2 linked regions of the Homo sapiens genome follow. Each later gene encodes a partner of the first gene's protein in a complex. Each region holds a gene or a part of one and is shown on either strand. Other genes may lie near its edges.

Region 1 (4,728 bases):
TTAGTGGTGTTATTCGGCATCCTGGGAAAATAAACTGAAATGTGGCTCAAATATGGCTCTAAGCTCAACAGGGTACAATCCACTACTTGCAAGTCTTCCCACCCCTCACTTTCCCAGGAAATGATTCTGTTTTGGGTATTAAGTACCTCTCTAAACACAACTACATTTAGTGCAGTTTTACAACTTCCCTTAGTATCATTAACACTTCTGTGACCAAACAAACAAACGACTACTGCAAACTGGTTTATTTTTTATAGGAAAGTGTCAACATGTTTATTGCTAATATAAGCATTTAATGTCAAAGAAATGAAGGTAATTTTACAAACTCAGTTTTTGTAAGTACATGAAGTTTCTATTTGATTATGTGGTTTTATATCACATTCGTTCAAATGCATTTCTCTCCCTTAGAGGGACTATTCCAACATCACTCCTTTGGAATTATTTCAGTCATCCTTAACATGTGACTTTACCAAAGACCTTGAAGCTAAACAAACAAGCAAAACAAAATTTCAATGACTCTTAGATGAATGGAATAAGAAATAGTCATCACATGTCAATTAGGGATGTTCATCTCCAACCAAGACACTGTCAAAATGTTTCTTCTGATACAGCAGTTATAAGTCAGAGCCTTCAAAAAACAAGGGCAGAACAAGAGTACAATAAAAGAAGCATCTGCAACTTAAGCCTCCCACAGTCCTAAGCCTGATATGCGCAAAGCAAAGCCTCTTTCCCGCAAACTAAATTCCATCCATTTGAGCTTTCAGAGATCGATGCCCAAGAGCTATCATTAATATATACAGCATATTGACTCTAGTTGCATCAATTATGCCTGAAGAGTTTAATACCCATCCAAGTCCAAAGGTGGAAGAATACATACACTGGTATGGTAATAGGCAAGAGCAGGCTGTAAAAGCAAAGGCTGGCTGTGCTAGTGCAGCCCTGTGGGAAGTTTTCTTCCACAGAGGCTGAGTAGAACAGTCCTGCTAAAGAAACCAGTGGAATAAGAACAGTCAACGTAGGAAGAGACAGAAACATTCTTCTCTTCCACTTATTACCTGCCACTGTGTTTTAAAAGGTATATGGTATTAAGAAAAGTTGGCTGTTGCGTTTTTTTAATTTTTTTAAATTATGAACTAGCGCTGCTCCACTTCTTCTTGCTTCTTACTTTGACGTGTCATCCTAGCTGCCTGTGGTATCATATTAGGGATCCCATCAATGATTGGATAAGCTATTCCCAACTCTTCATTAATCAATTCGTTTGTTGATGCTTCATATCTGAGGTGGAAAAAAAAAGAACAAAATGAGTTGTGGGAAAATAAAATGCTTGAAGAGCCTGATTTTCAACAAATACCACCATTTATCCAATTTTTGGTACGGAGTTAATCCCAGAATAGTCTTCTTTAATTCTAAAAGCAACAATAGCCAATTCAACCTTTTATCTTAGAAAAATTCTCTTACAATCTATAATTATTCCCATTTTAGTAGTTTCTCTCATATTCTCTTTTTCACCTTATTCACAAGTTATTCCTTAATTTTTTTTCATACTAGTCAGAAAAGATCCCCCTCTCTTATCCAAATATTCCTTCATTACTTTGGTCAACCCCCAAACCATCCCTGTTAATTTACTACTGGAATAAACACTAGAGAAAAATCAACTTCTTCATTTTAGAATAAATGCTAAGTAGAGAAACTTAACTAATCCATTAGAAGGAAATCACTGGAAAAGGTGAGAGGGCAGAAATGAAGAAACTTTCGAAAGCACTAAGTCTGCAGTGAGCTAGTTATAAACGTAAATCAAATGATAATTTCAAGGTTCGAGAAAATTGAATAATATGTTTATTACGGGAAAAAGAAATACGAAAAATTGCTAGCAATCTACCATTCAAAGATAACCACTGATAACATTTTGGTGTTTATGCGATTTGTAATACTAGCGTTAGTGTTGTCAATATTCAATTTTGGTAGCTTGGAAACTGTAGAGCTGTCTTCCCAAAAACTAGTTAAAGAGGCTTCTACGAAACCTGCTAGGCCACAACTAAGAGCCACTGGGCAGCAAACACAGCTGAATTGCTTAAGATTGTCAGGCACCAGTTGTACAAGACACTTTCACAAGAATCTGGAGGGTACAACAATACTTTTCATTATCTTGGCTTAAAAACCGGAAGGCTTCGGACTTGTCCTGAATCGCAGTGGTTCATAAACCTGGTGGTACATTAGAAATCATTTAGGGACCGTTTAAGAACACAGATAAGCTGGGCGTGGGGGCGGCGCCTGTCTCTCGACTCCTGAGGAGGCTGAGGCGGGAGTTCTAGGCCAGTCTGGGCAACGTAGGGGGCACCCTGTCTCTTAAAAGGAAAAAAAAAAAGGAAAAGAAAATACAAATGTTCAGGTCCCATCCCGCGAGCATTCCAAGTCTGCCCGTCTTGGGGGCTGTCGGGGAATCGGCATTTTTAAAACGGTCCCCGGGTGATTGCAATGCGCAGCCGGTCGCGAACCCTAAAACGCTTCGAGCCATTCCCGCAGGCTGGCGTTGCGTTCTGGGAGATGTGGGACGCAGCTCCCCTGGCCTCCGGTCTCCCCCGTCCTGCCCGCTGTGCGCCCGGCGAGGACAGAGTCCAGAATGTGGCAGCGGAGAGTACCTGACCGACCTACAAGGCCCCAGTGGCTGCAAGAGGCCGCGGTCCACCGCTCCCTTTCCGCCCACCGGGAGGCTGCAAAGGAAGGGCCAAGGCCAGCGAGTTACCTGAGCGGCTTCTTGGAGAGCGGGCACACCAGGAACTCCAGCAGCGCCGGATCGAAGTCGCGGGGCGGCTCCTCAGTCTTCTTGCCCCGGTCGGCCAAAGGCCGCGACCCCGACGCGTGCAGGCACCTACGGGCGACCGCGGACGGCGGCGCGCGCGTTCCCCGCAGCGCTGAGGCGAGCCTGCAGCGTGCTCCACTCAGCATGGTCTGGCAGCCGGAGACCAGGCCTCACCGCAGCCTCGCCACCCGTGGCCGAGCTCCCGGCTTCCCGTTCGTCCAGGCCAGCCGGGCAGGCCCCGCCCCCTGGTCCTCCAGGAAACGCTGCCGAGGAGTAGGCGGGGCGGGCGCTTTGGTTCCGAGGGTGCTTCTGCTCCGACTGCTTTTCCCACGGGCGTCATCTATAGTCCGGAGGACAGCCCCAGGGCAGAGGCCTCTGGTGAGTGCCCCGCCGCCTTACCAGACTACAAACTAAACCAGTGTTTAAGTCAAGGTGTCTGGGTTTTCACCGGGGCCTGTCCAAGGATGCTAGGAAGCCAGTGGCCAGGCCTCAGAGTTGTAGGGAGTTAGGCTTGGACCTACGTGGTTACCTCCAAGTGAAGTTTCAAACACACTGTTATGTATTGTACCGAATGTATTGTCATGGATGTATTGAAAGCGCTCATTTGTTTCATGTACATCTTTACTATACCATTAGTTTCTGTAACCTTGTTTGGCTTTTTTCTCTCTCATTAAAAAAAGTGAGAACCTGGAAGGAAGGGCCTAGGCCTCTGACCCTCCAAAATATATAAATTCTTCCTGCCTGAGACCCAGTCATTGTGAAGTATTTGCGTAATAAAGCACAGCTAATTTACTTCTATAAATGAGCTTGGAGGCCGCAAGGGGCCTAAATAGCTGTGTAACAGGCAGATGTGATCTGCCTGTTAAAGATCCATTCAATGAGTGGGTGATCCATTCAGTGAATTTGTATCCCAGGTTTGCTTCCCACTCTCCAAGAAAGTGACCATGTTAGATCTCTTTCTTACAGTGTAGTAGATGGGAACTTGGGCTCTGGGGCCTGACAGCTTGGTTCCCTGTCCACAATTAGTAGCTGGATGACTTTGGCAAATGACTTAACTGCTCATTTTCCTTATCTGTATAAGACTAATAATTGTACCTACCTTGTAGGTAGGGCATAAATGTGATTGTGCATTCGAAGAACATTTAGAAAAGTGCCTGGCACAAATTAATGCTCCATTAATGTTGTCTATTTTTATTTTTAGTTCATCTAGTTTTTCCATGTCCGAAGACTCAAAGATTCTCATTAGTCATCCATTTTTTCCCTCCGTTCTGCTGAATATCAACCTGAACTTTTTTTTTGCATCACTGGGCATTATCATTTCACACTTTGAGTTCCTGGAGCTGGAAGTACAGAATCCAAAAATATGTTTATATTTTCAAATTTCTCTTCCACTCCAATGTAAAAATAAACTGACAAATGTTTATATGTTCATCCTAATTTTTTGTTTGTTTTTTGGGCCATCCTGTTTTTTTTAAAAAAAACAGTTTATTTTTTGATGTTCTTTGTTCACTAATGCTCAGAAGATTTTCTAAGGTTAATGTAGTTTATAGGATACCAAAAAGGAAACACTTCTACTGGATAGATATTTAAGAGATAATGAAAGTCTCTGGTTGCCTCACCTTCCTTCCCTCACAAAGCAATCTTTCACAGTCATAACTTTCCGTTATTAGAGTTACTAACGGACTAGAGAATAGGGCAGTTATCGGGACATACCCTCAAGGGAAACTACTGTAAAGTTCCTATGTCACCTTCACACTATTTCCGACTAGGGCAGTAGCAGGAATTAATTTTTCAGTTGAAGTCAGTTGATACTTTGGGCTCAAGGGAAGGGGTGAGCTGTAGGAAAGATAAGTTTCTGCTTAAGGAGAAACAGCGCTTGACTTCTGCAAGCGCTGAGTGGGCCCAACCCTTGGCGCTTGTTGGGTAGG
Region 2 (4,054 bases), on another chromosome or scaffold:
AGCCCGCTCCAGCCCCGACCCTGGGTAAACACGGCACAGAGACAAACACACCATCAGTGTTTATTGGTCAGCTGTCCCAAACGGGCCAGCCCTGGGGCTTTGGGGCTGGGCCTCCGTGAGGAGAGGTCAGTCGGTCAGCGGCCCGGGGTGGCTGCCCTGAGCCCCAGGGCTGGTCCTGGGGTCTGTCAGTCCTTCCCCAGGCTTTCCAGGTCCAGAAGGCTTTGTGGGGTCTGGGGCTGTGTCAGGGTAAGGAAAGCTGCCTTGGTGGAGGAAGAGAAGTCAGAGAGGTCACACATGTGGCCTTAGAACCTGCTAAGTCCAACGTCAGCATGTGACAGGAGGGGAAGTGAGGCAAGACGGCAGAACCCAGGGGAAAAGGTGGCAGGGAGTCTGAGAGTGAGGTTGGGAGGACCAGCATCTTTTAGGCCCTGAGCAAGAAGGAGGTGACCGGAGTCTTCCAGGTATCCCTCCCTCCTAGCTTCTGGAAGTGGGAGTCGGGGAGGGGGCTCCAGTCAGTCAGGTGTAAGCTCCATGCCATGGGGACTCTGCAGGACAGGCAGGCTTGAGGAGCCACTGTGCCTGGACAGGTTCTGCAGGCTCCCCCACTTGGTCCCTGTGCTGGAGGGGAAGCAGAGAAGGGGCTGGCAGCCTCATCCCTGCGGGACCTTCACTGAGCCTTCTTGGTCACTCTCTTGGTCTTCAGCATCACATAGGAGATGAACAGTCCTGGGATACACAGACCAGAAAGGCCACATAAGATCTAAGCTCAGGGCTGCTGGGAGGCCAGGGCATGACACAGCAGAGCCACCCACACACAGGGCTGTGAACCTACCCAACCATCCTCCAGGGAACCTGCTTATCTCCCTAGTCATTCGTCAAGGCATATGTCTACTCACATTCACTCAACAAACACCAACTGAGTGCCTGCCTCAAGCAAGATGCTGCATTTAGTGTTTCAGATTCCAAGGGGAACAAGATCCACCCATCTATCGATCACCCGGTCAACCACTTGTCTGTCCACCTACATACCTACCCACCTCCTCCTACACCTCACCCACCCACCCATCCATCCACCCATCATCCAGGCACCCGGCTGTTGACTGACTCATCCAAATGACTTTCTGAGCACAGCCTCAGTGCCACAGCCTGTTCTAGATGTGCAGTAATGATGGAGACACAGTCCCCATCCCTAGGAAGCCATGAGAGAGAGAGGTGCAGGAATTAGAAGCCAGGGTGACAAGAGGGTGACTGAGGTGTGAGCAGAGTGATGATGGGGTTGGGGCAGGAAAGAGGTAGACAGGTCATTGGAGTCCAAAAAGCCTGGGGCACCAGGAAACCCAGAGGTTACTGACTGGCAGCCTCGAAGGATGAACAGGAAAACCCCACGGGTGAGTTCGGGGCAAGCAGCTTCCAGCACCGCCAAAGTGTGGAAGCATGTTCAGAGGTGGGGTCTTCCCGAAACCCTGCCCAGGGTCAAGGGGAGGAGGTGATGACTTACCCACAAACAGGAGCAGCAGGAGGCCTGCAGCCAGTGGGATGGCGACAGCATAGGCTCGGGGCAGGAAATACTTGTGGATGACATGCTGACTGTCGATGAATGGCTGGCATCGAGGGAAGAGCTCTGGTGTGTCTTGCTTGCCTTGCCGAGCCCCCAAGCCCAAACGTCCCACCTCCTCCATCTAAGGGGCTGACCCATTCAGAGGACTGGGACTGCATTTGCTTTTCTTTAAGATTACGGCATTTGGGTGTCGTGGTTTGTTTCTTTCCTTAATTTCTTATTGGTATTTACCGGGCACTTGCTTTGGTGCCTGCTATAGGTTGGTGGTGGGGACAAGAGAACAGGGCACAAGAGACCTGCCCTAAGGCACCTCACAGCCTAGCAAATGGTACTTGAGGAATCCTCGACTGACTCCCAACCTGGGCCTCCAGGGCTTCTTCACTAATATTTTTTCTCTAAAGGATACCAAGTTCTGCACTTCCAGACACACTGCACTTCTTAAGCAATAACCAACAAGTTTTCCCACAAGAAAAAAATATCCTAAAGGCCTTCACAAATATCACTGGCGTTTGCCATGCCTAAGAGTCAGCAGGCTAACCCAGAAGGAACAGAACTCCCCCAAAAGTCAAAGCAAGCCGGAAACAGAGTTATAAGTGTAGCGGCTAAGGATGCAATCTTGGGCCAGATCCTTCTCCCCTAGCCTCAGCTATCTCATCTATAAAATGCGGTACCACTGGCATCTTCCTCATAGAGTTGTTCTGGAGAGTTCAAGAGATGAGGCAGGCAATGAAGCCAGCGCCGTGCCTAGAGCCTATATAGTAGTTGCTCTGGCGGTGCCAGGGCTCGGGGAAGGTGAGCAGCGGACGGGGAGAATGACATACCAAGAGAATCACCCAGGCGGTGTAGTAGGTGAAGATGATCAGGCTAACGGCGACGAGGCCGAGTCCCACCACCTGGTCTGTCCCCGTGGCCTGGAGAAAAGGGAGGTCTCAGCTGACGAAGTGACCCTCTATTTCGGCGCACTAATGGAAGCGGGGCGTCGCGGCCCGATCACGGTCTAAGCTTCCCATTCAACAGATGGTAGAGGGCTGACTAGGGATCAGTTTCTAGGCTGGGAGAGAATGCTAGGCCTCCGCGTTGTCGTCCGTACAATAGTGGGGGCGGGAGAGCAATCCCCGTTCCAAGTGCCCATGCCCCAGCTCCTGAGCAGACCCGGGACCCCACCCCCAGACGCCCCTATCTCCGGCACACGGTGCCAATCTCACCATTTCCCCGCGCGCTCAGCCACCCGAGCCGCAAGCCACATCCGGTTCCGGGTCCACGCTCTTCCGGCTTTGGACTGCGGAGCACGCCGGGAGTCGTAGTCCCCAGGCCTGCTCGGGCCCACCTCGTCGGAGACGAGCAGGAACCGCCTCCTCTTCTTTGCATATCGGCGAAGTGTAGTTCTCAAGAGCATTGTGGGGCCGGTTGCTGCCCGAATCTCTCTAGGGAATGGGACCGAGTTGGGGACCCAGACTCCCTGGCCTTCATGGCCACAGTCCTGTCGCCGCCCCACCAAAAGCCAATCTCTAAGTATCCCAGAGTCCCGGGGCCAGAGTGGGATGGGAGTGCGGGATCGGAAGTTCCATTTTTCAGATGGGAAAAGTGAGGCTCAGAGAAAGGTAGATCCCATTCCGAGTCAGTGGTGAAGCCGACACGGAAACCGGGTGCCCTACTTAGTCTGTAGGTGGGAGAGGTGCAGAGAACGTTCACTTTCCAGCCTAGGGTGGGCGGGGGAGGGTCTGTCCCTAGCCCGCATGGATGGGGAGGATTTGGTGGAGAGGAGGCGCCCTCCTCACCATCGCCCGGCCTCCCGGGCCACCCTTCGGATGTCCCCTCCCTTCCTTCACCGACTGTCTCTCGCAGCAGCCCAGACACGTTTCGGACCGGGACCCACGCACAGGCCCCTCCCCGGTCTTGGAAGGCCCTTCCTCTGAGAACAAAGAGATGTTGGGCCAGATCATCTTCCACGCTTCTTCAGCTCCGAGATAGGAACGCGGTCCCCCACCACTCACAGGCCGGCTGCTCCTCACCCATCCGGTCTCACTGGGACGCCACGTTCCTCAGGGAAGCCAGTCGGGAACGTTTTTTTTGTTTGTTTGTTTGTTTTTGAGACGGAGTTCTATGTTATCCAGGCTGGTGTCGAACTCCTGGGCTCAAGCGATCCTCCCAACTCGGCCTCCAAAAGTTTACAGGCGTGAGCCACGGTGCCCAGCCTCCTGTGCCTTTTAATTCACTGATGCAATTGTTGATCCAGCCCTGTCAGCCCCGAGGGTAGGGTCTGAGGTTGCTGCTGTATCCCTGGCACTCAGTGGAGGCTTGGCCCAAAGAAAGAGGTTTTTTTGTTTTTTTTTTTTTTTCCCAAGACGGGAGTCTCACTCTGTCACCCAGGCTGGAGTGCAGTGGCATGATCTCAGCTCACTGCAACCTCTGCCTCCTGGGTTCAAGCGATTCTTCTGCCTCAGCCTACCGAGTAGCTGGGATTACAGGCACGTGTCAACACGCCCAGCTAATTTT

What was found.
Region 2: PIGY (region 1) and DPM2 share a complex: the UniProt entries of both Homo sapiens proteins name them as parts of the glycosylphosphatidylinositol-N-acetylglucosaminyltransferase (GPI-GnT) complex.

The regions. Positions count from the first base shown.
Region 1 is NC_000004.12:88,520,755-88,525,482, forward strand, and holds PIGY (phosphatidylinositol N-acetylglucosaminyltransferase subunit Y), read right to left. Parts: upstream 3,023-4,728; 5' UTR 2,947-3,022; coding exon of another isoform or gene 2,744-2,946; intron 1,276-2,743; coding exon of another isoform or gene 1,134-1,275; 5' UTR 1,036-1,133; coding exon 820-1,035; 3' UTR 244-819; downstream 1-243. Other genes in the region: PYURF (protein preY, mitochondrial precursor), read right to left, coding at 1,134-1,275, 2,744-2,946. UniProt on the Homo sapiens protein: Part of the glycosylphosphatidylinositol-N-acetylglucosaminyltransferase (GPI-GnT) complex that catalyzes the transfer of N-acetylglucosamine from UDP-N-acetylglucosamine to phosphatidylinositol and participates in the first step of GPI biosynthesis.
Region 2 is NC_000009.12:127,935,055-127,939,108, forward strand, and holds DPM2 (dolichol phosphate-mannose biosynthesis regulatory protein), read right to left. Parts: upstream 2,801-4,054; 5' UTR 2,767-2,800; coding exon 2,764-2,766; intron 2,470-2,763; coding exon 2,380-2,469; intron 2,257-2,379; coding exon of another isoform or gene 2,161-2,256; exon of another isoform or gene 1,763-2,160; intron 1,725-1,762; exon of another isoform or gene 1,602-1,724; coding exon 1,499-1,601; intron 727-1,498; coding exon 668-726; 3' UTR 45-667; downstream 1-44. UniProt on the Homo sapiens protein: Regulates the biosynthesis of dolichol phosphate-mannose. Regulatory subunit of the dolichol-phosphate mannose (DPM) synthase complex; essential for the ER localization and stable expression of DPM1.